Linked DNA regions of Homo sapiens. The protein of the gene in region 1 interacts with the protein of each later gene in a pairwise test. Each region holds a gene or a part of one and is shown in the gene's direction. Other genes may lie near its edges.

Region 1 (7,900 bases):
GCAAATTGAGGGTGATATGTGCTGCCTTGTCTACCTCAGAGTTGATAATGAGGATCCAATGTGATGGGAGACAGGGAAATGAAAGATGCATTATACAAATCAGGCTGCTCTTAACATGTACTTCTTCAGGTTGGGATTTGTTGTTGTTGTTGTTGTTTTTGTTGTTGTTGGCTTCAATCTGGGGTTCACACTATGCTCCATATACCTCAAGGTGCTTCAGGGGTCACTGTGGAGTCAAGTGGGCTGGTTGCTGGGCCCCAAAATCCATTTCAGCCAGAGCTGTTTAGCTTTTATCAGTTTTACTTACTAGAGTTCTGAGTAGGGCTGAATTTGAAAAACATGTTTCTGCTATTGAGAAAAGAGATAGGAAACCAATGACTTAGACGAATAAACGACATCCTAATTGTCAACCAAATAGAACACAATGAGCTATTCTTAAAATAAAGGCGGTGTGCTGGTGGAGTCAGATAACTCTGGTTTCAGATTCCATTTCAGCCCCATGCCATTTGAAGAATTTGTTACTCTTTAATTTATCTAAACTTTGGTTTCCTCATCTGCCAAATGGAGATTAATACTATACATTTTGTAGGGTTGTTGGAATGATTAAATGGGATATTTAAACATTTATGGTAATAATTCAGATTTGTAAAAATTCCTTGCAATTCAGATGTGATCATTTCTTTAAGCTCTACAATTATTGCATGAGGTAGGTACTCTTTTAAACTTTCCATCTCTTTTTACTTTTTATTATGCAAATTTTCAAACACATAGAATAATAATATGGTGAATATCTATGTGTCTATCACTGAGTTTCAATAATTATCACATTGTGCCATTCTGGTTTCAATTGCTACCTCCACCCCTCCATTTATAAGTGAAATTACTTTTACAGATAACGTGGCTGAGGTTTGGAGGGGTTAATTTCTTTGCCCAAGCTCCTACAGTTAGGAAGTAGTAGAGTTTCAGAAATGAAACCCAAGACCGCCTTGGCCCTGAGGCAATAATGTCGGCTGTCCTGTCTTAGAATCTGGGGCATCTTTGAATAGTCAAAATAGTTGGGAGTCCCATATACTGAATGATCACACACAGAGTGAAAAGCCAGGGAGCTGTTCTTACTATTTCTAGAATGCCTTCAGGTGCACAAGATATCTCTCAGCTGGTCTTTCTGCTGCTTAATTTGTAGACCTGGTTTTGGTGGTGTTTTCTTGTATTGTGGTAGATAGGTAAGTGCATTCTACAATTCTTTTTGGCCAGAATTTGTTTTTCTTGACTCTGCACCTATTTATCATAGGAACCTAGACATTTCAAATTTGAAAGAGATTTTTGAAGCCATCTTCCGCTGCTCGAATCCCCTCCTTACTGTCCCTGCCAAGTGGTGCACTTGTACCACTTGGTACAGTTTATCAGATGGGGAGCTTACCACTTCCCTTTGCTGCCCCTTCCCTTGCTATGAACCCCCTCAAAATACCTTTTGCTTTCTATCACTGAAATATGTCTCTATCAAACTAATTCCCATTGATCTGGATTCTGCCCTTAGTACTCCAAGCCAAATCTATGTCTTTTTTCTTTCGATACCCCTTTGGATAGTGAAAGACAGCAAGACAGCAACAATATTCCTCCCAGAATGTTTTTGTCTCTATAAGCTAACCACCTCTGGTTTTCTAAGTTTCTCCCCATGTGCCAATTTGGTTAGTTTCCTGTCCACACTGTTGGTCCTTGTGGCAGTGTAACTTTGAAAGCCAAGTACAATAATCCAGGGGTGATCCAATCCATGCAGATTTGATCCTCCCTGTCTGCATTCTGTTTCCTGTTAATGACAACCAATACTACACTCACTTTTTTCCCCAAGTCGACTTTCACTCTGTGGACACATTTTCAATCTCTTAATTCATTCATTCAATTATTCATTCAACAGATATTTATTAAACATCTACTATATGCTAGAACTGTGTGAGAAACTAGGGGGATGGAGCTGTGAACTCCATTAATCCCTGCCTTCCTAGAGCTCACATTCTAGTATAGGAGAAAAAAGAAGCAAGTAAATACAAAAGCTATGATATCTTCAGAATGTGAAAAGAATGGTATTCCCAGTGGAGGAGACCCATAAGAAACACACAAAAATAAACAAGATAATTTCAGTGACAACTGTGATAATGGAAATAGAGCAGAGGGAAGTGATAGGAAGAGCTCCTTTAGTCTGGGTGTCAAGGAAGGCTTCTCTGAGGAGATGTGATTATCTGGGCTGAGACCTGGGTTCTAAGAAGGAGCCAGTCAAGGGAAGTTCTGGAAAGAACATTTGGGCAAAATGGAGAGCAAGGGCCAGGCATGGTGGCTAAAGCCTGCAATCCCAACACTTTGGGAGGCTGAGGTGGGCAGAACGCTTGAGCCCAGGAGTTCAAGACCAGCCTGGGCAACATGGCAAGACCTCATCTCTACAAAAAATACAAAAATTAGCTGGGCATGGTGGCACACACCTGTAGTTCTAGCTACTCGGGAGGGTGAAGCGAAAGGAACACTTGAGCTCAGGAAAGTCGAGGCTGCAATGAGCCAAGATTGCACTACTGCACTCCAGCCTGGGCGACAGAGTGAGACCCTGTCTCAAAACAAAACCAAAAGGAAAAGCAAATGCAAAGACTGTGAGGTGGGAGTGAGCTTTGAGAGGGACAGCGAGACGGGAGAGTCAGGAGGGATGGGGACATGGCCATGGTATAAGTATAACAGAGACAGGCAGGCAAGGCCTCAGGAGGCCTGGAGGATCACTGCGGGGAGTTCAGATTTTATTCCACATGTTATGGAACACTTTTGCAGGTTTTTAGGAAGGGGTGTGACATGAACAGATTCACTAATGTTTGAATCTCTGTCCAGCTTCTGTGTGGAGATGGTTTGTAAGTGTGTGGGAGAGGAAGTGGGAGGCCTCTGGGAAGATACTGTCAGAGTCCAGGGGAGGCCTAATGGTGGCAGTGGCTGGGTAGGAGTGACTGCAGTAGGGATGGAAAAAGTGGAGGATTCAACTGTGTGTTTTAAGATGAGCCAATGGACCTACTCATGATTTGGGTACACAAACAGACACATTGAGGCTCATGCTCTGCTTCACGCACGAGTTCACTTGACAAACAAGGATGGGGGCATGCATCACTATCAATGTGACTGGGGTGTTGAGACCGAACACTGGCAAACTCAAGGTGGGGAGTGTAGGGCCTCAGAGCAAAGGATTCCAACCTGTGGCCCATGGGGTCTCTGAAGTAATTCCCCAAATGCTGAGAGCTGGGAGGATGTCTTTCCGGCAAAAGGGTGTAGAGAAGCTTTCCTCAGATTTTCAAAGAGGTGTTGACCCCTCCAAGAGGAGAAAACACTAGCCAAGAGCATTAGACTCCAAAGATCTCCAGAGCTGGTTTCTAGTCTAAGACATCAGCCTGAGTTCCATGTCTGAGTCTTGTCTTTATCACTCCCATCACCAAGTTTCAAGCTTTCAAAATAATAATGATAATAAAAGAGGCTATGTATTCCAAGCTTGAGCCCCTGGTTGGACGGTGTGCCATTTACAAAGGTGGGGAAGAAATGGGGAGCAATGGGTTTTGGGGGAGAAATCAATAGTTCTGTCTAGTGCTGATTTAACTCCAAAATCTGGTTCAGTTATCTTTTAGTTAGTCTTAAGTTTGGGCTTAGAGAATTGTGGCAAGCCACTTATTCAAGGATTACTTATTCATTCATTCCCCTAATCTCTAAAACTTCAAAGCCTCAGAATGAGGTCTTTGGATTTGCTGTTGACTCCGTTGCCCTAACTACAGAATGACATTTGTTCATTTCTTCATTCATGAATTCATTCAACAAACACAATTGCCTTCGCAGTACCAGGCTGTATGATGGGTCCCAGGGACACAGAGATAAGCAGAACAGAAGCCTTTCCTCAAAGAGCTCCCAGTCTAGTGGGTGGCATGAACACAGATACATCTGACAACAATGACATTCAACAAATATTGCCAGGTGCGGTGGCTTATGCCTATAATCCCAGCACTTTGGGAGGCCGAGGTGGGTGGATCACTTGAGGTCAGGAGTTTTGAGATCAGCCTGGCTAACATGGTAAAACCCTGTCTCTACTAAAAATACAAAAATCAGCTGAGCGTGGTGGCAGGTGCCTATAATCCCAGCTACTCAGGAGGCTGAGGCAGAAGAATTGATTGAACCCAGGAGGCAGAGGTTGCAGTGAGCCGAGATTGTGCCATTGCACTCCAGTCTGGGTAACAAGAGCAAAACTCCGTCTCAAAAAAAAAAAAAAATTAGTATGCACCTATTACTGAAATGTCTGAAAAAAATACAATGGTGGAAAAGCTGGGGACAGTCTCTGACCTCCTTTATGAACTTTCAACATCTTGCAAAAGGCAGATCACAACACACTATAGTAAGTGTTCTGGTGATGAAGTGCCAGTGCCATGGAAGCGCACTGAGGGGACACATGACTGAACATTGTACTTGACTACTGGACTGGGCTTGGTACTTAGGGAAGTCTTCCTCTGAGGGAAGCAATCTGAAGCAGCAACAGATGAGACCCCTGCACTGTGTGATGAAAGATGCGGGTGTAGTCCGCAGGTAGCAGGGATGTCATGATTAATAACTGCAAAGGTTTCCATAGTTATGTCCCCCAGCTAGGTCTTGAGAAGAGAGAAAGAACAGCCTATGGAAAGAGCCCAGCAGCAGGCGCAGGGAAAGATGAGAAGTTACATGGGAGTGAAGTGTAGCATGTGTTAGTGACCGGGAGAAGGTGGCTCGAGCTTGCTGGGTGTGGTTGGCTTCCCTGGATGCTTCCAGGCCCTCTGTCAGCACCCAAGACTTTCCCATTTACCTGTCATAACAAACTTGGTCTGCAGAGTGGAAAGGCTTTGGTGAGCATTATTCCAAGCCAGACTCAGGTAGGGAGATAAATCTACTGAAATAAAAGAAATCTGTTTAAGCATTTTTTGAAAAACAGAAGTGGTTTATTGATTGGCAGCTTTCTGAGGCTATTTGTTGCAAGAAGGAAGAAGGCTTTTTTGCACTTATTTTGGTAAACTTTCACTGTTGGCTTCCATTGGCCAGTTCTCCACACTGGTGAGCAAGTGATATTTGGGAATCCACTCGGCTTCCTTGCTTGAATGGCTCTCCCAACAAACATCTCTTTGTGCTACTGTTATTTAAACAATTAGGTGAACCCGACTTCTCTGGAAAAGTTGCTTGGAATACATAGCCTCTTTTGTTTTTTTTGGTTTTTTTTTTAGCATTATTCTTTAAAAAGCTTGAAACCTGGTGATGGGAGTGATAAAGACAAGACTCAGATACGGAAACTCAGGCTGATGTCTCAGACTAGAAGCCAGCTCTGAAGATCTTTGGAGTCTAATCTCAACTAGTGTTTTCTCCTCTTGGAGGGGTCAATACCTCTTTGAAAATCTGAGAAAAAGCTTCTGTGCAGCTTTTGTCTGAAACACATCCTCACATCTCTCAGTATTTGGGAATGATTTCAGAGACCCCGTGGGCCACAAGTTGGAACCCTTTGCTCTGAGACCCAACCCTTAAGCAAGTGTCTCCCTCTCTCTTTATTTTACTTTATTTTTAAATTTATTTTTATTTTTTAGATGGAGTCTCGCTCTGTCACCCAGGCTGGAGTGCAGTGGCGCGATCTTGGCTCACTGCAACCTCCACCTCCCGGGTTCAAGCAATTCTCCTGCCTCAGCCTCCCAAGTAGCTGAGATTACAGGCATGCACCTCCATGCCTGGCTAATTTTTGTATTTTTAGTAGAGACAGGGTTTCACCATATTAGTCAGTCTGGTCTCGGACTCCTGATCTCAGGTGATCCACCTGGCTTGGCCTCTCAAAGTGCTGGGATTATAGGCGTGAGCCCTTGCACCCAGCCTTTCCCTCTCTTGAGCTTCCCAATGCTGGGTCTCAGCACCCCAGTCCCATTGACACTGATGCACCCCTGTTCTTGTTTGTCAAGTGAGCTAGTGCTGGCAGACACTGGCTCTTCCCTCCTCCAGCCTGCCACACGTCCTGGCAGTCCCCCTTCATGATGGCCTTTGGTGCCTTGCCTCCCTGCTCGTCTCTCCTCTGCCACCCTCACCACATCTCTTCTCACTGCATTGGGTGCCTTTCCCTCCAGGATGCCCTCCACCCTTCACCAATTTCATCTTCTGAAGCAGGTCAACAGCACTGCTCAGACATCTCTCATGGCTCGCCTTGTCCTCTGGCCCCTTGGGCCTGGTTTTCAGGGGTCTCTGTAGTGGCCCTGCCTCCATCTCTAGATGCACGTCTTGCTGGTCTCCTGCACATGCTCTATAAACCAACAAGAGCTACCAGCAGGTGCATGTCACCTTGCCTTTGCTCATGTTATTCCACTACCAGGAATGCCCTTCTCCCATATCTCTGTCTATCTAAATCTTATCCATCCTTAAGGACCTAGAATAAGTGTGTTGTCCTCTGAATTCTTTGTTGCTCACATCATTCAACATTTTTCTTTCTCTTTTTCCCACATTCCTCTTTTTAATTGAAATAAACAACTATGTCCCACCTCTTTCCTAAGTGTTTTAAGGTGGCCCAGATAACAAAAAATAAGGAGACAGGTGGATTAGAGTTCCAGCACACTTTCTAGCTGTAAGCAAGTTCCCCAAACTTTCTGTGCCCTATTTTCCTCATCTGAAAAAATGGGAAAAGTCACAGCGACTATTTCAAGGGATTACTATGGAAGCAAATGAAATGATATATGTAGAGCTCACACAGCACTGGGAATAAGAGAAGGACTCGATGTTCATCATCATCATCACCATTCCACCATCATCATTGTCATTATCATGGATAAAATAACAGGACATGATTGATATGGGACAAGGAGATATATATGCCAGGAAACTTAGGCTGAAGGGAAACTGCTCAACTGATAACAGCATCTGGTTTGAGATTCTTGGCAGCCAGGGCATAAAGGGAGATCATAGCATTCGGTTTTCATAACTCATATTGTCTTCTAAGAGAAAGCAGAAGGGGTCATCATAAGAGACAAATGCTTCCCCAGCTCTGAGAGCTACATGGGATAGATCTTTTGAGGACGATAGAATGGAAGAATCTGTTTAAAATCAGCTCTCTTCTTGACCATTGGCCAGAGGGAAGGACACAGCCCCTTAATCGGGGCTATCAGCCCAGTTCCAGTGTGGGATTCTGATGAGGTGGTGGGCACCTGGCACATATCGTGTGCTGCCTTGTGGCAACAATTCCTCTTCCGCTACTGCACTATGGGCTTCTTAAGGGCAAGGTCTGTGTCTTACTCATCTTTGTCTCCCCAGTGCCCAGCTGAGTTCCTGGCACTTGGTGGCTATGCAGTGGGTATGAATAAATAAGGAAGTGAATGGTGAATAAGCCATAAAACTGCCACCACCCAGAGGTAGCCAGGATCGAAGCAAGGGGTCACGGTCATCAGAGGAAGCACAGAATATCAATAGCTCAAGACATTGCAGGTTTTTTCCTCCTTCTGTCTTAGGCTGCAGAAAACAGAACTAACATTTTCTTGAGTACTTTATAGGTGCCAGGCTCTATATTTTCATTTTCTGCTTTATTTCACTATCTTAGCAACCCTTCCCAGTAAAAGGTCAATATTACTCCCATTTTATAGATGAGAAAGGTGAGGCTCAGAGAGGTTAAGCAAGTTGCCCAAGGTCATCCAGCTCAGAGGAAGCAGAGCACGGATAAGAGTTTGATGTGGCTTCAAGGCTTGAGTTCTACCCGGAACCATGGGCCCTTCCGAATAGCCCTTCCACGTCTGCTTAGTACCAGGAGCCATGAGTGGTGAAGAAAGATGAATCATGATTAACGTCCCACTTCCCATGTCCCCCTTTGTAATTTAATTTTATGGTTTCGGGAGCTGTGTCGCAGGTTGTGGGA
Region 2 (7,900 bases), on another chromosome or scaffold:
GGACAACTGCCGCCTCTTCATCGGCGGGATCCCCAAGATGAAGAAGCGCGAGGAAATCCTGGAGGAGATTGCCAAGGTCACCGAGGGCGTGCTGGACGTGATCGTCTACGCCAGCGCGGCCGACAAGATGAAGAACCGCGGCTTCGCCTTCGTGGAGTACGAGAGCCACCGCGCGGCTGCCATGGCTCGCCGCAAGCTCATGCCTGGCCGCATCCAGCTGTGGGGCCACCAGATCGCCGTGGACTGGGCCGAACCTGAGATCGACGTGGACGAGGACGTGATGGAGACCGTGAAGATCCTCTACGTGCGCAACCTCATGATCGAGACCACCGAGGACACCATCAAGAAGAGCTTCGGCCAGTTCAACCCCGGCTGCGTGGAGCGCGTCAAGAAGATCCGCGACTACGCCTTCGTGCACTTCACCAGCCGCGAGGATGCCGTGCATGCCATGAACAACCTCAACGGCACTGAGCTGGAGGGCTCGTGCCTGGAGGTCACGCTGGCCAAGCCCGTGGACAAGGAGCAGTACTCGCGCTACCAGAAGGCAGCCAGGGGCGGCGGCGCGGCTGAGGCAGCGCAGCAGCCCAGCTACGTGTACTCCTGCGACCCCTACACACTGGCCTACTACGGCTACCCCTACAACGCGCTCATTGGGCCCAACAGGGACTACTTTGTGAAAGGTTAGTGGGGGCTCTTCTCCTGGGTGGGGCCCCCAAGAACGTTGCCTCCTAGGCAGGGGGCACCAGGGATACCGTGGCTGGCATTTGCTGAGCTGGTAGGTGCTGAAGGCCCTCCCACCCCCGTTTTGGGTTTGCATTCTGGGTCTAATTCTTTCCTGGCACCGAAGGCCGTCACTTATGCAGCACTGATAGAAATACAGATCGTTCTGGGGTGAGCGGTAAAATCACAGGAATATGCAAGTGCTGGAATTCTTCCTTGCCGAGGTCCACCGGGTTAGGGGCTAGTCCACCATTCTCTTGGTGCTTACGTTAAAACCTGCTTGTGATATTAAATCTTAAGATGTTGGTGGAGTCCGTGATTTTTAATTTTGTTTTTTGTTATCACTGATTAGGATATAATGACACCCAGCATAACCTGGAAAATAAGATACATAGGTTCTGGGTCCTGTTCTCTGATTAACTGGGTCTGTGACTTTAGTTAGTCACTTTAATCTCCCCTGGCCTGTTTTCTCAAGCATGAAATGAGGAAGGTGGACCAGCAAATCCCCTTCCAAAGCTAACTTTAAAAAAAATTATTTAATAGTATATATATATGTATTATATATATATATATGTATTTTATATATATATATGTATTTTATATATATATATATGTATTTTATATATATATATATATATATTTTTTTTTTTTTTTTTTGAGACAGGGTCTCACCATGCTCCCCAGGCTGGTCTTGAACCCCTGGGCTCAAGCCATCCTCTCGCCTCAGCCTCCCAAAGTGCTGGGATTACAGGCATAAGACACCACACCTGGCCACAGTTTTTTTTTTGGCGGGGGGGAGGGGGTGGTGGGTAGTCTATGAATGTTTTTCTTTACTGAAATTGCAGATACAATCCTAGAAACTCACCCTGCAAGTTTGCCTCTTGTACTAAGAAGACATGCTTAGGATGCAAATCTAGGCTGAAATAGAATGTTGGAAGCATCTTTACCAGCCTATTAAAGAGCAAAGGTGTAGCCACCTGCAATTAAGACTGGGGCAGTTAAATGCCGAGAACCGAGGGCTGAGGTCTGCCTCCAGCACCGTCACTGTTGGTTGCTGATCATCTTTTGTGTTGTTATTACAAGCAGGCAGCATAAGAGGCCGAGGGCGAGGTGCAGCTGGCAACAGAGCCCCAGGGCCTAGGGGTTCCTACCTCGGGGGATATTCTGCTGGTCGTGGTATATATAGCCGATATCATGAAGGGAAAGGAAAGCAGCAAGAAAAAGGATATGAACTGGTGCCGAATTTGGAAATCCCTACCGTCAACCCAGTTGCCATTAAACCTGGTACAGGTCAGTATGAAGCAGATTGAGAATGCTCCCATTCAGCATAAACCCCAGCCCTTCTGTTTGAAGTGAATCCAAGCGTTTTTCAGGCTCTCACATCTGCACAGGGGTTCCTCTTCTCCTAGGCAGCTAGAGACAAGGCAAAAATAAAGTGACCCCCTGGACCTCCTTATCTAGAACTTCAGGGGATGGTGTAGCTTTGACTATGTTCAAATCAAACTTGCCTGAGTAAGGTTTTTTTTTGTTTGTTTGTTTGTTTGTTTTTTTTTTTTTTTGAGACAGAGTCTCGCTCTGTCGCCCAGGCTGGAGTGCAGTGGCATGATCTTGGCTCACTGCAAGCTCTGCCTCCTGGGTGCACACCATTCTCCTATCTCAGCCTCCAGAATAGCTGGGACTACAGGTGCCCACCACCATGCCCGGCTAATTTTTTTTTTTTTTTTTTTTGTATTTTTAGTAGAGATGGGGTTTCACCGTGTTAGCCAGGATGGTCTCGATCTCCTGACCTTATGATCCACCCGTCTCGGCCTCCCAAAGTGCTGGGATTAGAGGAGTGAGCCACTGCGCCTGGCCATGCAGTAAGGTTTTCAAAGGGCTGTCACCCATTGTTAGGTTTTGTCTCAGTCTGTGGCTAAGTAAGGAGAGTTGTAGGGGGAAGAAAGGAAGAACATGAGGCTCTCTGTATCTTCTATCAGGTAAAACCTGTCTTTTCCTTACTCAGGCCTATTTCTGCCCCGACCATCTGAAGTCGGAGGGTAGAGCTTATTGCCCCATTCTGAGAGTTGTTTGGAAGGGCAGAAAATTCCCCTTCAGGAGTAAGCAGCACCTTTTGTCCCTTGTCATGGTCTGAGCAAATAAGAATGCTTGAGGACAAGGCAGTGGTGAAAGTTTTGTTGTTGTTTGAGATGGAGTCTTGCTGTGTCACCCGGGCTGGAGTGCAGTGGCATGATCTCGGCACACTGCAACCTCCACCTCCCGGGTTAAGCGATTCTCCTGCCTCAACCTCCCGAGTAGCTGGAACTACAGGCGCGCACCACCATGCCTGGCTAATTTTTGTATATTTAGTAGAGATGGGGTTTCACCACATTGCCCAGGCTGTTCTCGAACTCCTGACCTCAAGTGAGCCACCCGCCTGAGCCTCCCAAAGTGCTGGGATTACAGGCATGAGCCACTGCACCTGGCCTTTGCTGAAAATTTTTGCAGCTAATTCCCTGGTTTCTCATTTCCAGCACTCATTTCCTCCTCTAGTTGGATCAGTAGATTGGGAGTAGGGATGCTCAAGTATTTCAAGCCAGGGACCCTGAACTTAGCCTTCACCTCCAGGCCCTACAAACCTGTTTATTAATGTCATTAGTGCCCATGACCATCTAATGTGAGGCCGGTCTTCTGATCCGAACCTGCAAAAAACATTAACTCCATTGTGTGAGTCTATCACAAACTCACGTAGCACCCTGCAGAAGCATCCAAACACATGGAAAGCTCAGTCCGTGGGTAATTGGCACGACCCTCCTCCAGACCCCTCCTGGCTTCAGCAGGAGGAAGTTGAAGAACTGTTTGGAGCCCAGCTACTCTGATTTTCTTCTGGTTGAGATTGTACACTTCTCTCCCTAGCTAAAATAGAGTCAAGGAATCTGTGCATTTGGGACATAGGTACACATTGGCCTCATAGAGTTAAAAAGCATTTCCCCAATTGAACTTTCTTTTGATGATTCTAGTAATGATTTTTTTTTTTTTTTTTTTTTTTTTGCCTGTGTAAAAATTCTGCAATTTCTGCAGTTAAGTGACTCCTTAGACTAGATTGCCTTTTAAATGTCATTGGCACTGTGGGCAAAGTAAAACTGATCCCACAGCTCTGTAACTTAATAAAATAGAGCCTGGATATGGGAGTCGTCGCTTCTACTTGTTGAGAAGGGAACTCCCTTTGGCAAGTTACGGTAGCTTAAGGTTTAACAAGAGAAAAGAACTGTTAAATAATCTTTAACTATGTAAAGTTGTGTCCTGGAGCCTGAGGTAGAAATTCCTGTGGGCTGATAGCCAGAACAATTCATTTACTTCATACAACCCCTTGTAGCTTAAACTCACAACCCTCTCTGGGCCCCATCGATTGGCGTCTATTTCTGATCATCCAGAAAATGAGAACATTGTATTTTAGGAGAGGCACCAGGGTGGTGGTGAAGTATCTGGGCACAAGACCAGTGGAAGATATGGTTGGAAAGGCAGGTAAAAGATTTGATTAAGGTTTTAGGTATATTTTATCGAATGGCTGTACCATTGTTTAGCTTACAATCATTTGTCTCTTTACCTTTGATTGAGTCTGTCCTATTTAGAATAAATGTACCTACAGTTGGAGAAAACCAGAAATAGAAAGATTCTTTGTGTACACATTTCATATTTTTGTTTGTCCTTTCAACACACACACACACACACACACACACACACACACACACCCCCGCCCCACACACACACACTCACACAAAAGGGCTGATATCTTTTCCTTTTGATCTCTTCTTACTGTACCTTGACATTCAATAGCTGCTGTTTGAATCTCTGGTTGAAATCATAATTTTGGACTTTACTTGCAGAAATTCTTTGAATTGGGAGGTCCCACTAAAAGCCAATCACTCCACATCTTCACTACTTTGCGTGGGCATGAGGAAACTGGGGAATGTGCTATTTTTTTTTACCATGTGTTTTTCCTTGAATCGGTAATGTTGAAATCTGAAATACAGGGTGGGGAGGATGTACACAGGTCTGAGTTCTCAGAATGAAACCCTCAACAGCACCTGTTTCTTAAATAGTGGTGAAAGTGAAAAAAAGGCAGTGCGGCTGGTAATGAGTGAGGTGAGTAGGAAGGAACAGGCAGGCCCAACTCTCACAGGCAGTAGGCTTCAAGCCTCTGATCTCACTTCTTCGTCTAAGCCTGTTTTCCCATAGTCAGAGGCCCTTTCTTGCTCAGTAGGACATCAAGAATAACATTCAAACTGTGATTTTTCTGTAGAAATAGTAGAAAATATTGGTGCAAAAGCCTTACTCTAGGGGTCTCTTCCACAACAGGCAGGGGGAGTTACCTGCCACCACCCATCCCTTCCTCTAGGGAGCAGGCATCTGGGTACATGGCTTGTACTGAGAGAACAATAGTGAGCATGGAGAGGCCCAGGACCTCTAAACGTGGTTTTAAAAAATATCTTAGGCTGGGCGCGGTGGCTCACACCTGTAATCCCAGCACTTTGGGAGGCCAAGGCAGTTGGATCGCTTGAGCTCAGGAGTTCAAGACCAGCCTGGGCAACGTGGCGAAACCCTGTCTCTACAACAGCAAAAACAAAAAGCTGGGCAAGGTGGCCTGTACCTGTAGTCCCAGCTACTCAGGAGGCTGAGGTGGGAGGATCTCTTGAGGCCAAGAGATTGAGGCTGCAGTGAGCCTTGATCGCACCACTGCATTCCAGCCTGGGCCACAGAGTGAGACCCTGTCTCAAAAAAAAGAAAAGTTTTTAAAAAAATAAAAATAAAAAATATCTTAGAGCAAGTGCTGGACCCCACTCAGCGACTGAAAGTGATTGACCTGTTTTTCCTTCTTGCTTCTCTTGCAGTAGCCATCCCTGCCATTGGGGCTCAGTATTCCATGTTTCCAGCAGCTCCAGCCCCTAAAATGATTGAAGATGGCAAAATCCACACAGTGGAGCACATGATCAGCCCCATTGCTGTGCAGCCAGACCCAGCCAGTGCTGCTGCCGCCGCAGCCGCGGCCGCAGCCGCCGCAGCCGCTGTCATTCCCACTGTGTCGACGCCACCACCTTTCCAGGTAGAGTTCTTATTGCAGGCATTGTCATTTGTGTGTGAAGCCTCTCTTTAACATGGATTCATTTAGTATTCAGCACTGAGAATTTACTGTGTGCCTGGCTCTCTGTTACAGCTATGGTTGGGTGACACAAAGCATTTTGAATTTGAAGCATGACAGAAAAAAAAATTTTTAATTAATTGTACTACCCTAATAATATCATTGTATTAAGGGTGGTAATCAATATGCAAAAATTATGTGTAATTTTTCACAGTGTCATAATATTGTGCATATATTTTTTTAAAATAGCACTGGATAATTTTTAGCTCATATTGTTAAAGAGCTGACACACAAAGTCCAGGGAGTGATTTCACATTTTCACATTTCAAACTGCAGCTCAATGAAGATTTTTTAAAAAAATGTTAACCCCCGTGTGTGTGTGTGTGTGTGTGTGTGTGTGTGTGTGTGTGTAAAGAGAGAGAGAGAGAGAAAGAACATCTGTATAGATACGTAAAATTTTGTGCTGGGTACAGTGGCTCATGCCTGTAATCCCAGCACATAGGGAGGCCAAGATGGGAGGATCACTTGAGGCCAGGAGTTCAGGACCAGCCTGGGCAACATGGTGAGACACTGTCTCTACAATTTTTTTTTTTTAAATTAGCCTGGCATGGTGGCATATGCCTGTAGTCCCAGCTACTGGGGAGGCTGAGGCAGGAGGACCACTTGACCAGCCTTGAGGTCAAGGCTGCAGTGATCTGTGATTGCACTACTGCACTCCAGCCTGGGCAACAGAGTGAGACCCTGTCTCAAAAATAAATTTACAAAATATGCCCATAATCCTCTCTTCCAACCATATCTCCCACTGTTCCCCTATCTCTTCCCAAACTCATCTTACCATGTTGGCCTCCTTCCCCACCTTTTTCATAGTGTATCCTGGTTTCTTTATTCTCATCTCTTCCATAGAATCTTTCCCATCCACCTCCTAGATAAATTTTCTCTCTCTTTTTTTTTTTTTTTTAGACGGAGTCTCGCTCTGTCGCCCAGGCTGGAGCGCAGTGGCGCCATCTCGGCTCACTGCAAGCTCCGCCTCCCAGGTTCACGCCATTCTCCTGCCTCAGCCTCCCGAGTAGCTGGGACTACAGGCGCACGCCACCATGCCCGGCTAATTTTTTGTATTTTTAGTAGAGACGGGGTTTCACCGTGTCAGCCAGGATAGTCTCAATCTCCTGACCTCGTGATCCGCCCACCTTGGCCTCCCAAAGTGCTGGGATTACAGGCGTGAGCCACCGCGCCCGGCCATGAAATTTTCTCTCTTGTACTCCTGATTACTACATCATTACTTGGCCTATGGCTGCCAGTGTGTTCTATCTCCCAAGGAAAATGAAGCTCCTACAGACCAAAGACTGTGTCCTGTTTCTTTGTATCTTCACCTTATAGGACATAGGGAGGACATCCATTTAACAGAAGAAAATCTTGTTAAAGCTGTTTTCTGTGAGGCAGTGAATCATGAATACCGATCACAAGTACTCAGGCCCAGGATCCCTTATCCAATTGAAAAAGAATTATCCAGGCCACTTTTTTTGATTTTTGATTTTTGATTTTTTTGAGACAGTCTCACTCTGTCACCCAGGCTGGAGTGCATGGCTCACTGCAACCTCAACCTCCCTGGTTCAAGCAATCCTCCCACCTCAGCCTCCCAAGTAGTTGGGACCACAAACACGCACCACCATGCCCGGCTAACTTTTTTATTTGTAGGGACAAAGTCTTGCTATGTTGCCCAAGCTGGTATTGAACTCCTGGGCTCAAGCGATCCTCCCACCTCAAGCTCCCCAAGTGCTGGGATTACAGGCATGAGCCGTTGCCTACATTTTTTAAAAAACAGAGATTCTTAGACTCTAATCCCTGAAGATTCCAATTCGGTCAAACTGGGCTGGAGTCCTAGAATTGATATTTTGCACAGCTCCTCAATGATTCTGAAACAGAGCCAGGCCTGTGACCCTCCACAGTAGGATGCTGTTTACTTGCTTTTGCCCACTCTGAACACTAGTCTTGACTGCATTATTCAGAAAGGGCAGACTAATTGAAGCTTATTTATCTTTCAGTATGTCATTAAGTATTCTTTAA
Region 3 (8,840 bases), 6.2 Mb from region 1:
ATTTTATGAGGCCAGCATCATTCTGATACCAAAGCCGGGCAGAGACACAACAAAAAAAGAGAATTTTAGACCAATATCCTTGATGAACATTGATGCAAAAATCCTCAATAAAATACTGGCAAACCGAATCCAGCAGCACATCAAAAAGCTTATCCACCATGATCAAGTGGGCTTCATCCCTGGGATGCAAGGCTGGTTCAATATACGCAAATCAATAAATGTAATCCAGCATATAAACAGAACCAAAGACAAAAACCACATGATTATCTCAATAGATGCAGAAAAAGCCTTTGACAAAATTCAACAACCCTTCATGCTAAAAACTCTCAATAAATTAGGTATTGATGGGACGTATTTCAAAATAATAAGAGCTATCTATGACAAACCCATAGCCAATATCATACTGAATGGGCAAAAACTGGAAGCATTCCCTTTGAAAACTGGCACAAGACAGGGATGCCCTCTCTCACCACTCCTATTCAACATAGTGTTGGAAGTTCTGGCCAGGGCAATTAGGCAGGAGAAGGAAATAAAGGGTATTCAATTAGGAAAAGAGGAAGTCAAATTGTCCCTGTTTGCAGATGACATGATTGTATATCTAGAAAACCCCATTGTCTCAGCCCAAAATCTCCTTAAGCTGATAAGCAACTTCAGCAAAGTCTCAGGATACAAAATCAATGTACAAAAATCACAAGCATTCTTATACACCAACAACAGACAAACAGAGAGCCAAATCATGAGTGAACTCCCATTCACAATTGCTTCAAAGAGAATAAAATACCTAGGAATCCAACTTACAAGGGATGTGAAGGACCTCTTCAAGGAGAACTACAAACCACTGCTCAAGGAAATAAAAGAGGATACAAACAAATGGAAGAACATTCCATGCTCATGGGTAGGAAGAATCAATATTGTGAAAATGGCCATACTGCCCAAGGTAATTTACAGATTCAATGCCATCCCCATCAAGCTACCAATGACTTTCTTCACAGAATTGGAAAAAACTACTTTAAAGTTCATATGGAACCAAAAAAGAGCCCACATCGCCAAGTCAATCCTAAGCCAAAAGAACAAAGCTGGAGGCATCACACTACCTGACTTCAAACTTTACTACAAGGCTACAATAACCAAAACAGCATGGTACTGGTACCAAAACAGAGATATAGATCAATGGAACAGAACAGAGCCCTCAGAAATAACGCCGCATACCTACAACTGTCTGATCTTTGACAAACCTGAGAAAAACAAGAAATGGGGAAAGGATTCCCTATTTAATAAATGGTGCTGGGAAAACTGGCTAGCCATATGTAGAAAGCTGAAACTGGATCCCTTCCTTACACCTTATACAAAAATCAATTCAAGATGGATTAAAGATTTAAACGTTAGACCTAAAACCATAAAAACCCTAGAAGAAAACCTAGGCATTACCATTCAGAACATAGGCATGGGCAAGGACTTCATGTCCAAAACACCAAAAGCAATGGCAACAAAAGACAAAATTGACAAATGGGATCTAATTAAACTAAAGAGCTTCTGCACAGCAAAAGAAACTACCATCAGAGTGAACAGGCAACCTACAAAATGGGAGAAAATTTTCGCAACCTACTCATCTGACAAAGGGCTAATATCCAGAATCTACAATGAACTCAACCAAATTTACAAGAAAAAAACAAACAACCCCATCAAAAAGTGGGCAAAGGACATGAACAGACACTTCTCAAAAGAAGACATTTATGCAGCCAAAAAACACATGAAAAAATGCTCATCATCACTGGCCATCAGAGAAATGCAAATCAAAACCACAATGAGATACCATCTCACACCAGTTAGAATGGCAATCATTAAAAAGTCAGGAAACAACAGGTGCTGGAGAGGATGTGGAGAAATAGGAACACTTTTACATTGTTGGTGGGACTGTAAACTAGTTCAACCATTGTGGAAGTCAGTGTGGCGATTCCTCAGGGATCTAGAACTAGAAATACCATTTGACCCAGCCATCCCATTACTGGGTATATACCCAAATGACTATAAATCATGCTGCTATAAAGACACATGCACACGTATGTTTATTGCGGCATTATTCACAATAGCAAAGACTTGGAACCAACCCAAATGTCCAACAATGATAGACTGGATTAAGAAAATGTGGCACATATACACCATGGAATACTATGCAGCCATAAAAAATGATGAGTTCATGTCCTTTGTAGGGACATGGATGAAATTGGAAATCATCATTCTTAGTAAACTATCACAAGAACAAAAAACCAAACACCGCATATTCTCACTCATAGGTGGGAATTGAACAATGAGATCACATGGACACAGGAAGGGGAATATCACACTCTGGGGACTGTGGTGGGGTAGGGGGAGGGGGGAGGGATAGCATTGGGAGATATACCTAATGCTAGATGACGAGTTAGTGGGTGCAGCGCACCAGCATGGCACATGTATACATATGTAACTAACCTGCACAATGTGCACATGTACCCTAAAACTTAAAGTATAATAAAAAAAAAAAAAAAAGAAAAGAAAATTCTATAACTGGCCAGGCGCGGTGGCTCATGCCAGTAATCCTAGTACTTTGGGAGGCTGAGGTGGGCGGGTCACGAGGTCAGGAGATTGAGACCATCCTGGCTAACAGGGTGAAACCCTGCCTCTATTAAAATACAAAAAATTAGCCAGGAGTGGTGGCACGTGCCTGTAGTCCTAGCTACTTGGGAGGCTGAGGCAGGAGAATTGCTTGAACCTGGGAGGCGGAGGTTGCAGTGAGCCGAGATCGCACCACTGCACTCCAGCCTGGCGACAGAGCGAGACTCGGTCTCAAAAAAAAAAATTTTATAACTAATGTGGAAACAGTTTTATGATAAGATAACATGTGCATGATGGAACAGAGTGAACATTTTTGCAAGACTAGTCAAAGCAAAATTCAAGACTTCAAAAAAAAAAATGTGTACTTGGGAGGAGCAGTTTGCTTTGTTTATATCCTCAGACCCTGGGCTATGCACTCACTTTACTCTGCTATTAGTAATGATAATAAAAAGAGCTAATACTTGATGTATCTGCTAGGATAGGCTAGCTTATACAGTGGTAAACAAACAAAACTCAATGGCAACACAATGCTTATTTCTTGCTTATGCTAAGTTATCCTCTATGGGCTGGCAGAGAGCTCTTGTTTATCAGCTACACAGAAATCCAGGCTAATAGAGCAACCAACATCTTCAGCATCAATAGTTGCCATGCCAGAGGGAAAGAGAAGCACAAGAGGCTCAAAGCAACAAATAAATGCTTCAGAGACAAAGTAATCCATCCTTTCTGCTCAAACTCATTGGTCTTTCCCAATCACTTGAAGGCCAGGAAATAAAATCCTACCATGTGCTCAGAAGGCAAAACGCCAGAAATATTTAGTGAAGAGCGCTAATTGTCTATCATTCACTATCTACCAAGGGCTGTTCTAATTATATTACAGGCATTATCTCAGCTAAGCCTCATAATAATCTTGTGAAATAGGTACTATTAATGTTATCATCATTCCCATTCTATAGATGAAATAACTGAGGCACCAAGAGGCTAAGTAACCTGCTCAAAGTCACACAGATAATAGGTGGTAAAAGCTGAAGATTTAAACTTAAGCATTCTTGCCCCAGAGTCTGTGTGCTTAACCACAAAGCCATGAGATCTCTCACTAGGTGGGAACAATTTGAGAAACACTGCCATAGGCAATGGAGAGCCACTAAAGGATTTTTTAAGCAGGAAGTGTGAGTCCATCAGAATTGGCATTTAAAAGCTCCCTCTAGAGAGCACGGTGAAGGATTAATTTAACCAGATTTAGACTAAGGCAGGAAGGCTATTTGCAGAGTGAGGAGATGAAGATGGGGAGGGCTTGAACTAAGGTACAATCACCACTCACCGCAATTAACTGGGTTTTGTTGTTGTTGTTGTTGTTTGAGACAGGGTAACGGGGTACATTGGGGGTTGGAGGGGTGGTTCTTACTGTGTTGCCCAGGCTGGATTCCAACTCCTGGGCTCAAGTGATGCTCTGGCTCTGGCATCCTGAGTAGCTAGGACTACAGGTATGTGCCACCACACCCAGTAACTAGTTAATCTTGACTGTCTATTTCAACTGAAAAATGGTTATGGTAATACCTACTTGGATGGGTTTTCTGAGGAAAAACACCCCAATGAACTTGTGTGTTTTTAAAAGTCAAGTCCCCTAGGCATGGCTAGAAGGGAAGAGGCTTAGCCAGAAAATTTAATTGTTGTGATTAATAAAGTAATAGAAATGTTTAGTTTTCCTCTGATGAGATGAAAGCTTTGAGGGGATCCTGGTCTTGGGAGAAAGTAAAGAAATGGAGGAGAGGGTTTCACCAGAGTTTAGATAACTCTTAGCATCTGCTTACTATCTTCCCTGATTAATTATTTCCATGGCAGCCAGAGTGACCTTTTAAAACCACAAATCGGATCATGCTGTTTCCCTCTCCCCTAGTACAGTGCCTGATACTTAGAAATTTCTCAGTAACATCGTGCTCAGTGAATGAATGAATGAATGAGTGAATGAAAACACAAGCCAGATGGCAGGTGGATCCCTAAGGAAAAGGACAGCCAATGAGAAATTATCTGTAGCAACGGTGGCTTTGGATGATGATGTTTAATAATCATTTTTAAGGAGTTGCCTGTTGTGTGCTATGCTTTAATCACTGTCCCCCACCCTTCCCAAATAACGTTCAGTAAAAGTCTGCCACAAAAAACTCGCTGTTTTGTGAGAATTTAAGAAATGGAAGAAGAAACAAACTGTCTGGGCACCAGGCCAAACAATATCCAAAAAGGCAGGAGTCACAGAGGAGAGCTAATGAGTATTAGTGGGAGCAGGTATTCCAAGTGAGAGGTGACCAGAGTCCTCTGAAAATGTGGGGAGGGGGTGACGTTCCTATATCCTGGGTTAGGGGCTTGGACTCTTATATTTGGCTGTTGGAAAAAACAAGCTGGAGGACTTTGGGGTATCAACAACCCTCAGGTTACATAAGGATGATCATAGGGTCGTTGTGAGGATTATGTTGGGATAGTTCATGCAAAGCGCTTAACACAGTGCCTAGCGCATAGTAAGAGCTCAGTAAATGTTAGTTGTTGTCTTCCTTCACTTTCTTCCATTCCCTCCACTCCCTTTCTACCAGGCTCCATTCATTCTCTTCCAAGGACACGCAGGGGGCGTGCCCACCCCTTCCCTCCGCCCCCACCCAAGGCCCGCCCCCCGCTTCTCCACGGATTGGTTCCCGAGAGGCGGAGCTGAAGGAAGAGCCCAGTGCGGCGCGGTGGGGGCGGGGCGCATGCGCGAGCTGGGCAGGGTGGAGGTGGGGAGGAAGAGCTGCCGGAAGTAGGCGGTGGAGGTGGTAGCGGAGCTGACGGCAGCTGCCAGGGAAACCGAGGCGCGGGACGCAAGGCCAGCAGACAGGCCGGCCAGAGGGTCATCTGCGTCCGGCACCCAGGAGGCTCGTGGTCCGCCTTTGCCTGGGCTGAGGGTCTCTGGCCCCGCAGCCTCTCTTGGAGGCGGGCCTGTCCCTAAGCCCGCCAAGGGGCGCCGCGCCGAGGGGCTGCGGAGTGGGGGACGGACGCCCCCGACCCGGGAAGGGGCGTCCGGCGGGGCCGGAGGAGAGGGCTCTCCCCGCTCAGGAGGTGCCCCTGGGCGGGGGACCGGGAGTCCTCAACCCCGGACTGAGGCAGGGGTCTCTGGGGGCGAGGAGGGCGCGTCGCCCTCTGCCCCCGCCGGCACCCTGGCCATGACAGGCAAGTCGGTGAAGGACGTGGATCGGTACCAGGCTGTCCTGGCCAACCTGCTGCTGGAGGAGGATAACAAGTTTTGTGCAGATTGCCAGTCTAAAGGTAGCGCATCCCACCTGGCGGGCCAGGGGTCCAGCCGCGCCGGGGTGGTGGGGGTGGGCTGCGTGAAGAGGCGGTTTCTGAAGCTTAGGCCGCCCAACTCGGCTTATAAGTGGTAACGCGTGCTGCGCTTGCAGTGAGCCTACTGGGCTTTCTGCAGCTGGGGGATTGGTATGGGTAGAGCTTGCGAGGGCGAGTCTGTGTGTGTCGGGGAGGGTGGAGGTGATGGTGCGGGTGGAAGTTGCCTGGCGTGTTCAGGTGAGAATGTCTGTATTTGAGGGCTCTGAATGAGTTCTGGGCCGGCTGTCCAGAGAGAGCTCCCAGCATGTCACTTGCAAAGCTGGGGATGAACTGCATTGCGTGCGTGCGTGCGTGCGTGTGTGTGTGTGTGTGTGTGTGTGTGTGAGAGAGAGAGAGAGAGAATGACGAGGAGGAGGAGGAGGGAAGTGAGATGGCGGAAAGGAAAACTGCTTAAATGATTTTTAAAGGTGGTGATTTTTGCTTCCTGCTATTTGGTTAGCAACTCCTGTCATTTTGCAGCCTTGCTAAGATCTGACAAGAGTGCTTAGGTGACTTTATTCTTCTGGATGTGTGCAGTGGGAAACTGCCTTATGCAGTGACACAGTGCGGATTTCTAGGCAGTGTAGCCCTGGCTTGTAGAGTGCGTTGGAGGCCTATGTATGAGTGGTGGCAGAAACTAGCCGATTATGCCTGTAGTGCAGGATCCGTTTAATCAGTGGAGAGAGAAAGATGAATTCGATGAATTCATTGCTTCCATGGCGATTACACTTCTAAAGGTGAAATATGATCATTGTAAATTGGCAGAACCATTTAGTCTTTGTTTTCTGTGCCCTAGAAGATTCATGATTTGATACAATTAAAAGTCAGTACAATAGGAAATCTTGGTTATTAGTGAAATGTTGGCACTTGACATTTATACAAGCTTCTATGAATCTTTTTTTCCTGTATTTTCTAATTCTTTTGGCATATAATTGGAGGATTGGGAAAATTATTTTCCCTTTGGTTGGGTCGAAATGGATAGTTATATTTTGGGGGCGACAATTTACTTTTGTTCATAATGCAGTGGATTTGCCATGGTTGTTTGCCGTACAGCGTAGTGGGCATATACTATAAAACAAAGATTCAGTTATATTCGTATTTATCTATTTTGAGAAAGGAAGGACATATTTAATTGATGCTTTCACTTAATTACCTTTTATTTTTGAAGAATAAGGTTATAAAAGGAGAACAGGGGAGGGATACATAGACACCTAGTAATGTATTTTAGTGACCTCTACCAACAGATAAATGGAATGTGCCATTAGGAAAACAAATTCCTAGACTTCTTTCCTGAATTTTTGCATTAGCAATAATTCATTTTAAAAAGTATTTTAGAATCAATTTATGTTGAGTAGGTTAGCTTCTTGATTCTTGTTACATCTTCTGTTAGGTCTATTGGAAGATTTGGTTTATTTTAGGAGTGTATCTTGGCTTTATTCAAATTCCCTTATGTCCTCATTTGACAGATCTTGAGTCACAGTGAAGCAACCCACTGGAGTGAGCATTGCTGCATTTGGAGAGTCAGATGCCATTTTGGTGACTAGAACCCCCCCCCCCATTTCTCATATTACCCTTATACTTACTCATATTCCAATAAAATACAGCACATGGAAGAGAGAGGCTGATTCACTACTTCTTCCTCCAAATTTCCATTGCTTTTTATTTATTTTATTTTTTATTTTTATTTTTTGAGACAGTTTCGCTTTGTCGCCCAGGCTGGAGTGCAATGGTGCAATCTCGGCTCACTGCAACCTCTGCCTCCCGGGTTCAAGTGATTCTCCTGCCTCAGCCTCCCGAGTACCTGGGATTACAGGCGCCCGCCACCATGCCCAGCTGATTTTTGTATTTTTAGTAGAGACAGGGTTTCACCATGTTGGCCAGGCTGGTCTTGAACTCCTGACCTCAGGTGATCCACCCGCCTCAGCCTTCCAAAGTGCTGGGATTACAGGTGTGAGCCACCATGCCCAGCCCGAAATTTCCGTTGCTTTTTATTAATAAGCTTACTGGGGATCAGGTTATGAAATATCAGTTAATTCTTAATGAGAACTAGTAACTGCTGGCTTGTAAACTTTATTAACTACTGTTGATGGTAGAATCCTGGATCCTCAATTTCTTTTCAGAAGTTCGTTTTACATTTTACCAGGTGGCTTCAGGGACTTGGTCATTGTATTAAAAATGAGATGACAATGGGTCAGTCATCTTTAGATTATGACAAATAGGCATTTGTTGAGGCCTCTGTTTATCCAATTTATGAATTACCTATCCCATTCCACCCCTCCAAGCCCTCTCACTCTTTTTCCCCTGCTGTTTTCTAATTTTGGTTGTCATAATGATCATTTGGACAACTATCAGATTGTTGAAGGAAAAGACGTTTGGATCAATAAATTGTTACCTGTTAGCGCTGATAAAAAATACATTTCATTGGAGGAGGAATTTAAAAAGTGTTGGCTAAAATGAGAATTGGGTTTCAGTTTATTTACCTGTATTCCTGTGTCCTTTCCTAAAAAATTGGAAGTTAACTGTACAGGATATGGTGAGTGATTGCTCATCTATTAATATCCAGTTAGATGATGTGGCATAGACTATCGACCTATGAGCAGGTATTTTTGCAATGTTCCAAAATATAACTCTTTGGCAATGACTTTTATTTTTAAATTCTTATACTTATTTAGGAACATTTATTAGTTGACTTTCAAGGTATGTGATTTAAACTTCGGAATAGAGGCTGGGTGTGGTGGCTCAAACCTGTAATCCCAGCACTTTGAGAGGCCAAGGAGGGAGGATCACTTGAGTCCAGGAGTTCAAGACCAGCCTGGGCAACATAGTGTGACCTTGTCTCTACAAATAGTTAAAAAATTAGCTGGGTGTGGTGTTGTGCATCTGTGGTCCCAGCTACTCAGGAGGCT
Region 4 (7,830 bases), on another chromosome or scaffold:
ACATGAAGTCCTTGCCCATGCCTATGTCTTGAATGGTATTGCCTAGGTTTTCTTCTAGGGTTTTTATGGTTTTACGTCTAACATGTAAGTCTTTAATCCATCTTGAATTAATTCTTGTGTAAGGTGTAAGGAAGGGATCCAGTTTCAGCTTTCTACATATGGCTAGCCAGTTTTCCCAGCACCATTTATTAAATAGGGAATCCTTTCCCCATTGCTTGTTTTTCTCAGGCTTGTCAAAGATCAGATAGTTGTAGATATGTGGCATTATTTCTGAGGGCTCTGTTCTGTTCCATTGGTCTCTATCTCTGTTTTGGTACCAGTACCATGCTGTTTTGGTTACTGTAGCCTTGTAGTATAGTTTGAAGTCAGGTAGCGTGATGCCTCCAGCTTTGTTCTTTTGGCTTAGGATTGACTTGGCGATGCGGGCTCTTTTTTGGTTCCATATGAACTTTAAAGTAGTTTCTTCCAATTCTGTGAAGAAAGTCATTGGTAGCTTGATGGGGATGGCATTGAATCTGTAAATTACCTTGGGCAGTATGGCCATTTTCACGATATTGATTCTTCCTACCCATGAGCATGGAATGTTCTTCCATTTGTTTGTATCCTCTTTTATTTCGTTGAGCAGTGGTTTGTAGTTCTCCTTGAAGAGGTCCTTCACATCCCTTGTAAGTTGGATTCCTAGGTATTTTATTCTCTTTGAAGCAATTGTGAATGGGAGTTCACTCATGATTTGGCTCTCTGTTTGTCTGTTGTTGGTGTATAAGAATGCTTGTGATTTTTGTACATTGATTTTGTATCCTGAGACTTTGCTGAAGTTGCTTATCAGCCTAAGGAGATTTTGGGCTGAGACAATGGGGTTTTCTAGATATACAATCATGTCGTCTGCAAACAGGGACAATTTGACTTCCTCTTTTCCTAATTGAATACCCTTTATTTCCTTCTCCTGCCTAATTGCCCTGGCCAGAACTTCCAACACTATGTTGAATAGGAGTGGTGAGAGAGGGCATCCCCGTCTTGTGCCAGTTTTCAAAGGGAATGCTTCCAGTTTTTGCCCATTCAGTATGATATTGGCTGTGGGTTTGTCATAGATAGCTCTTATTATTTTGAAATACGTCCCATCAATACCTAATTTATTGAGAGTTTTTAGCATGAAGGGTTGTTGAATTTTGTCAAAGGCTTTTTCTGCATCTATTCAGATAATCATGTGGTTTTTGTCTTTGGCTCTGTTTATATGCTGGATTACATTTATTGATTTGCGTATATTGAACCAGTCTTGCATCCCAGGGATGAAGCCCACTTGATCATGGTGGATAAGCTTTTTGATGTGCTGCTGGATTCATTTTGCCAGTATTTTATTGAGGATTTTTGCATCAATGTTCATCAAGGATATTGGTCTAAAATTCTCTTTTTTTGTTGTGTCTCTTCCTGGCTTTGGTATCAGAATGATGCTGGCCTCATAAAATGAGTTAGGGAGGATTCCCTCTTTTTCTATTGATTGGAATAGTTTCAGAAGGAATGGTACCAGTTGTTCCTTGTACCTCTGGTAGAATTCAGCTGTGAATCCATCTGGTCCTGGACTCTTTTTGGTTGGTAAGCTATTGATTATTGCCACAATTTCAGCTCCTGTTATTGGTCTATTCAGAGATTCAACTTCTTCCTGGTTTAGTCTTGGGAGAGTGTATGTGTCGAGAAATTTATCCATTTCTTCTAGATTTTCTAGTTTATTTGCGTAGAGGTGTTTGTAGTATTCTCTGATGGTAGTTTGTATTTCTGTGGGCTCGGTGGTGATATCCCCTTTATCATTTTTTATTGCGTCTATTTGATTCTTCTCTCTTTTTTTCTTTATTAGTCTTGCTAGCGGTCTATCAATTTTGTTGATCCTTTCAAAAAACCAGCTCCTGGATTCATTAATTTTTTGAAGGGTTTTTTGTGTCTCTATTTCCTTCAGTTCTGCTCTTAGTTATTTCTTGCCTTCTGCTAGCTTTTGAATGTGTTTGCTCTTGCTTTTCTAGTTCTTTTAATTGTGAGGTTAGGGTGTCAATTTTGTATCTTTCCTGCTTTCTCTTGTGGGCATTTAGTGCTATAAATTTCTCTCTACACACTGCTTTGAATGCGTCCCAGAGATTCTGGTATGTTGTGTCTTTGCTCTCGTTGGTTTCAAAGAACATCTTTATTTCTGCCTTCATTTTGTTATGTACCCAGTAGTCATTCAGGAGCAGGTTGTTCAGTTTCCATGTATTTGAGCAGTTTTGAGTGAGATTCTTAATCCTGAGTTCTAGTTTGATTGCACTGTGGTCTGAGAGATAGTTTGTTATAATTTCTGTTCTTTTACATTTGCTGAGGAGAGCTTTACTTCCAACTATGTGGTCAATTTTGGAATAGGTGTGGTGTGGTGCTGAAAAAAATGTATATTCTGTTGATTTGGGGTGGAGAGTTCTGTAGATGTCTGTTAGGTCTGCTTGGTGCAGAGCTGAGTTCAATTCCTGGGTATCCTTGTTGACTTTCTGTCTCGTTGATCTGTCTAATGTTGACAGTGGGGTGTTAAAGTCTCCCATTATTAATGTGTGGGAGTCTAAGTCTCTTTGTAGGTCACTCAGGACTTGCTTTATGAATCTTGGTGCTCCTGTATTGGGTGCATATATATTTAGGATAGTTAGCTCTTCTTGTTGAACTGATCCCTTTACCATTATGTAATGGCCTTCTTTGTCTCTTTTGATCTTTGTTGGTTTAAAGTCTGTTTTATCCAAGACCAGGATTGCAACCCCTGCCTTTTTTTGTTTTCCATTGGCTTGGTAGGTCTTCCTCCATCCTTTTATTTTGAGCCTATGTGTGTCTCTGCAAGTGAGGTGGGTTTCCTGAATACAGCACACTGATGGGTCTTGACTCTTTATCCAATTTGCCAGTCTGTGTCTTTTAATTGGAGCATTTAGTCCATTTACATTTAAAGTTAATATTGTTATGTGTGAATTTGATCCTGTCATTATGATGTTAGCTGGTTATTTTTCTCATTAGTTGATGCAGTTTCTTCCTAGTCTCGATGGTCTTTACATTTTGGCATGATTTTGCAGCGGCTGGTACCGGTTGTTCCTTTCCATGTTTAGTGCTTCCTTTAGGAGCTCTTGTAAGGCAGGCCTGGTGGTGACAAAATCTCTCAGCATTTGCTTGTCTGTAAAAGATTTTATTTCTCCTTCACTTATGAAGCTTAGTTTGGCTGGATATGAAATTCTGGGTTGAAAATTCTTTTCTTTAAGAATGTTGAATATTGGCCCCCACTCTCTTCTGGCTTGTAGGGTTTCTGCCGAGAGATCCGCTGTTAGTCTGATGGGCTTCCCTTTGAGGGTAACCCGACCTTTCTCTCTGGCTGCCCTCAACATTTTTTCCTTCATTTCAACTTTGGTGAATCTGACAATTATGTGTCTTGGAGTTGCTCTTCTCGAGGAGTATCTTTGTGGCGTTCTCTGTATTTCCTGAATCTGAACGTTGGCCTGCCTTGCTAGATTGGGGAAGTTCTCCTGGATAATATCCTGCAGAGTGTTTTCCAACTTGGTTCCATTCTCCCCATCACTTTCAGGTACACCAGTCAGACGTAGATTTGGTCTTTTCACATAGTCCCATATTTCTTGGAGGCTTTGCTCATTTCTTTTTATTCTTTTTTCTCTAAACTTCCCTTCTCGCTTCATTTCATTCATTTCATCTTCCATCGCTGATACCCTTTCTTCCAGTTGATCGCATTGGCTCCTGAGGCTTCTTCATTCTTCACGTAGTTCTCGAGCCTTGGTTTTCAGCTCCATCAGCTCCTTTAAGCACTTCTCTGTATTGGTTATTCTAGTTATACATTCTTCTAAATTTTTTTCAAAGTTTTCAACTTCTTTGCCTTTGGTTTGAATGTCCTCCCGTAGCTCAGAGTAATTTGATCGTCTGAAGCCTTCTTCTCTCAGCTCGTCAAAGTCATTCCCCATCCAGCTTTGTTCTGTTGCTGGTGAGGAACTGCGTTCCTTTGGAGGAGGAGAGACACTCTGCTTTTTAGAGTTTCCAGTTTTTCTGTTCTGTTTTTTCCCCATCTTTGTGGTTTTATCTACTTTTGGTCTTTGATGATGGTGATGTACAGATGGGTTTTTGGTGTGGATGTCCTTTCTGTTTGTTAGTTTTCCTTCTAACAGAGAGGACCCTCAGCTGCAGGTCTGTTGGAATACCCTGCCCTGTGAGGTGTCAGTGTGCCCCTGGTGGGGGGTGCCTCCCAGTTAGGCTGCTTGGGGGTCAGGGGTCAGGGACCCACTTGAGGAGGCAGTCTGCCCGTTCTCAGATCTCCAGCTGCATGCTGGGAAAACCACTGCTCTCTTCAAAGCTGTCAGACAGGGACATTTAAGTCTGCAGAGGTTACTGATCTTTTTGTTTGTCTGTGCCCTGCCCCCAGAGGTGGAGCCTACAGAGGCAGGCAGGCCTCCTTGAGCTGTGCTGGGCTCCACCCAGTTGGAGCTTCCCAGCTGCTTTGTTTACCTAATCAAGCCTGGGCAATGGCGGGCGCCCCTCCCCCAGCCTCGCTGCCGCCTTGCAGTTAGAGCTCAGACTGCTGTGCTAGCAATCAGCGAGACTCCGTGGGCGTAGGACCCTCCGAGCCAGGTGCGAGATATAATCTCGTGGTGCGCCGTTTTTTAAGCCCGTCGGAAAAGCGCAGTAGTGACCCGATTTTCCAGGTGCCGTCCATCACCCCTTTCTTTGACTCAGAAAGGGAACTCCCTGACCCCTTGCGCTTCCCAAGTGAGGCAATGCCTCGCCCTGCTTCAGCTTGCGCACGGTGCACGCACCCACTGACCTGCGCCCACTGTCTGGCACTCCCTAGTGAGATGAACCCGGTACCTCAGATGGAAATGCAGAAATCACCCGTCTTCTGCGTCGCTCACGCTGGGAGCTGTAGACCGGAGCTGTTCCTATTCGGCCATCTTGGCTCCTCCCCTGGACAGCGTTCTAAATAGCCTCCTGCCAAAAATACTATTCCCCTTTTAAAAACAAGTTTTTAAGACCCACCTAATAGAAGGAAATGTTGTAACTCGTAATCTGTGCTGACCCATCCCTCATTTTATTTACTCAACATTTATACTGTAACACTAGACTAGAGATTGTCTAATATAGATTCTAAGCTCTCAGAGAGCAGGTTTTCCTGAGTTCTGGAGCCCTCCTAAATTGCTAGCCTCTCACTTTGTAACATTCTAATTTAATTGGTACCAAGGTTCTGCAAATATTTAGTGAATGTTGATTGATGGTCTGTACTCATCTGTTCTAACTTATCTTTTTTTTTCCATTCAGTCTTCCTGATCTATATTTTCTCTTTACTTAACAGACAGTGTGGAGCATTCATTATTAAGACAATTGGGCAGCTCTATTCCAGCTCAACTGATTTCTTGTCCAATGATCCTTGCGTGGCCGAGATCCAGCTTCAACGAACCAGCTAGAAGCTGCCCGTTGTGAAACTTAGTGTTAGTTAATACCTCACCATACTCAGTTATTCCACTATAAGCTGTCTAAATTTGATGAAATTTGCTTTTTCAGCTGTTCTACAAAATTATTTAGGTAGATGTGGCATGTTGGTTTTTTATGTGCTAACCTAACTGTAATGACCTTTTCTACAACATGTTTTATCCATTCCATAAATAATAACCACATTGGGAATAGTGAGGTGTCTTTTATTTTCTCTGCTTTGTGTTATTTTTTCTTATCAAACAATTAGATGTTATGTTTCATATTATTTGATATTTATTTTCATATTTAGGATAAGAATCATTTTTAATTATAATACTTTTAATACTTTCATATATTTTACAACAGTATACTATTTAATATTAATGACAATTCTATTTTTGCTTTGCTGTTTTGTCATTTAATATGCTTTTGTCTAATTTTTAATTCATTTATTACTGTTACTCCTTATTTAATTTTGCGTCTGCCATGGTTTTCAGAATCTGAATAGTATTTATACTTCTTTTTTATAACATTTTCCAAATATTAGAAATACCATCAACATGATCAGTATTCTTGCCTTTTCATGTAATTTGACTATATTAAATTTTTTCTCCAGTGTTTGAGACAATATTGAAATCTTCCTATAACATAATTTATTTGGTATCAAATTTTATAAAATATGGATCCACCTTTGGAATTTTGATAAAAGGGTTCATCTCTGACATGATCCCATAACACTGACTGAAATTCCACCAAATTACTGTTCTTTGAATGCTTTAATCCTTAAACCTTTTCTTCTGATATGCAACCAATATATTCAATTATATATGTGATTAATTTTTAAAAGGACAATTGTTTTCATAAAATGCAAAACTATTTTTTACACCAAAGGAAAATTTTAGATTCTGATTCTAAATCCGATTTTTACTATAAAATTGGAAAATAGATGGGAGGGGTGTCATTCATTGTTCAAAAGGTACAGAACAAATCATAGGGGTTTTTAATCTCTAAAATTTCTACAGTAGTACAGGAAATATTCCTCTTTACATTCATTTGCAGTTCTTTCACTGACCTCCTAATTTTAGGTGGAGGGGGCAGGGGGAGCCATAAAAGTTGGTATTACCCTAATAAATCTATCTCTTTCCTCCCCTGTTTCAACCCCACATGTATTCCATGCTCAGCAGCAGCAGCAGAAATAGTAGGATATAGATCACAAAGGTTTTTCTGGTGAGTCAAATAGGGTGTTTTCTTTTGAAACTGTAATGAATATGTTTGCCAGTCAAATGGCTTCATGAGAACAGTAGAACCTTATGAATGTATACTAGCATACAAGGATCTCAAATACATTAATTATTCTCAGTTTTAGGAATGTAAATAGATTAAGTCCCACAATGAAATTTCAGAAGTTTTTGTTCTGTAAGTAAAAAATTACTAACCACTGATGTTCAAGATTTTCTTTTAATAGCACTATCCTTGAGAACCAAAAAGTTTATGTTTTGATTTTCAAATGTTAAACAAGATGCTAAACAAATCCTGGACTGTTAATAAAAATTAATTATGTATTATTGGATAAGGAATTTTGATGATAATTGATACCCAAGTGTGTTTCTTCCACAACTATATAGATTATATGCATACACATATATACATGTTTATATGCATATATACACACACATATATAATTTATACATATGCACTTTCTTAGAATTTAGCTTTATTTTGAGAAGCTACTAAAAATTTTGGGAGTTTGACAATCTGAATAAATGGAGGATATCATACAGCCTTCTTCATGGCCTAGCTTAATAGCCCAAACATGTTACTTTTTTTTTTTTTTTTTTTTTTTTTAAGAGACTGTCTTGCTCTGGGGCCCAGGTTGGAATGCAGTTATGCGATCATGGCTCACTGTGACCTCAAACTCCTGGGCTTAAGCCATCCTTTCACCTCAGCCTCCCTAGTAGCTAGGATTACAGGCATGCACCACCACACCCAGCTAATTTTTTATTTTTTGTAGAGACAGGGTCTTACTAGGTTCCCCAAGCTGGTCTCAAACTCCTGGGCTCAAGTGATCTTCCTACTTTGGCCATCCAAAGTGCTGAGATTACAGGCGTGAGCCATTGTACCCAGCCCCACACATGTTACTTCTAAAAACAGATAGATTGAGAGACAAAAATTCTCCTTACATATACTAAGTAAAGCCCATTTTATTTATTTCTATTTTGTAGTATATCTCTGATAATTTTGAAAATTAAGGTTTTACTTAGGACCCATTTTGAAAGGCAAATCTGAAGAAATTATCTGAAATTCACTGGGTGTTAGAATAAAATGGATAATACAGATATTAGTACATGTACCAAAATCACAAGGTAATAACTT

What was found.
Region 2: the proteins of C1orf94 (region 1) and RBM47 interact in binary tests that used the Homo sapiens proteins (3 or more experiments, as listed by UniProt).
Region 3: the proteins of C1orf94 (region 1) and SMAP2 interact in binary tests that used the Homo sapiens proteins (3 or more experiments, as listed by UniProt).
Region 4: the proteins of C1orf94 (region 1) and BOLL interact in binary tests that used the Homo sapiens proteins (3 or more experiments, as listed by UniProt).

Annotation. Positions count from the first base shown.
Region 1 is NC_000001.11:34,179,595-34,187,494, forward strand, and holds part of C1orf94 (uncharacterized protein C1orf94), read left to right. Parts: intron 1-7,900.
Region 2 is NC_000004.12:40,430,551-40,438,450, reverse strand, and holds part of RBM47 (RNA-binding protein 47), read left to right. Parts: coding exon 1-680; intron 681-1,803; coding exon 1,804-2,010; intron 2,011-5,588; coding exon 5,589-5,800; intron 5,801-7,900. UniProt on the Homo sapiens protein: Single-stranded RNA-binding protein that functions in a variety of RNA processes, including alternative splicing, RNA stabilization, and RNA editing. Functions as an enzyme-substrate adapter for the cytidine deaminase APOBEC1.
Region 3 is NC_000001.11:40,368,347-40,377,186, forward strand, and holds the start of SMAP2 (stromal membrane-associated protein 2), read left to right. Parts: upstream 1-5,380; 5' UTR 5,381-5,774; coding exon 5,775-5,877; intron 5,878-6,286; exon of another isoform or gene 6,287-6,349; coding exon of another isoform or gene 6,350-6,362; intron 6,363-7,400; exon of another isoform or gene 7,401-7,470; intron 7,471-8,840.
Region 4 is NC_000002.12:197,726,087-197,733,916, reverse strand, and holds the end of BOLL (protein boule-like), read left to right. Parts: intron 1-5,338; coding exon 5,339-5,362; coding exon of another isoform or gene 5,363-5,450; 3' UTR 5,451-7,027; downstream 7,028-7,830. UniProt on the Homo sapiens protein: Probable RNA-binding protein, which may be required during spermatogenesis. May act by binding to the 3'-UTR of mRNAs and regulating their translation.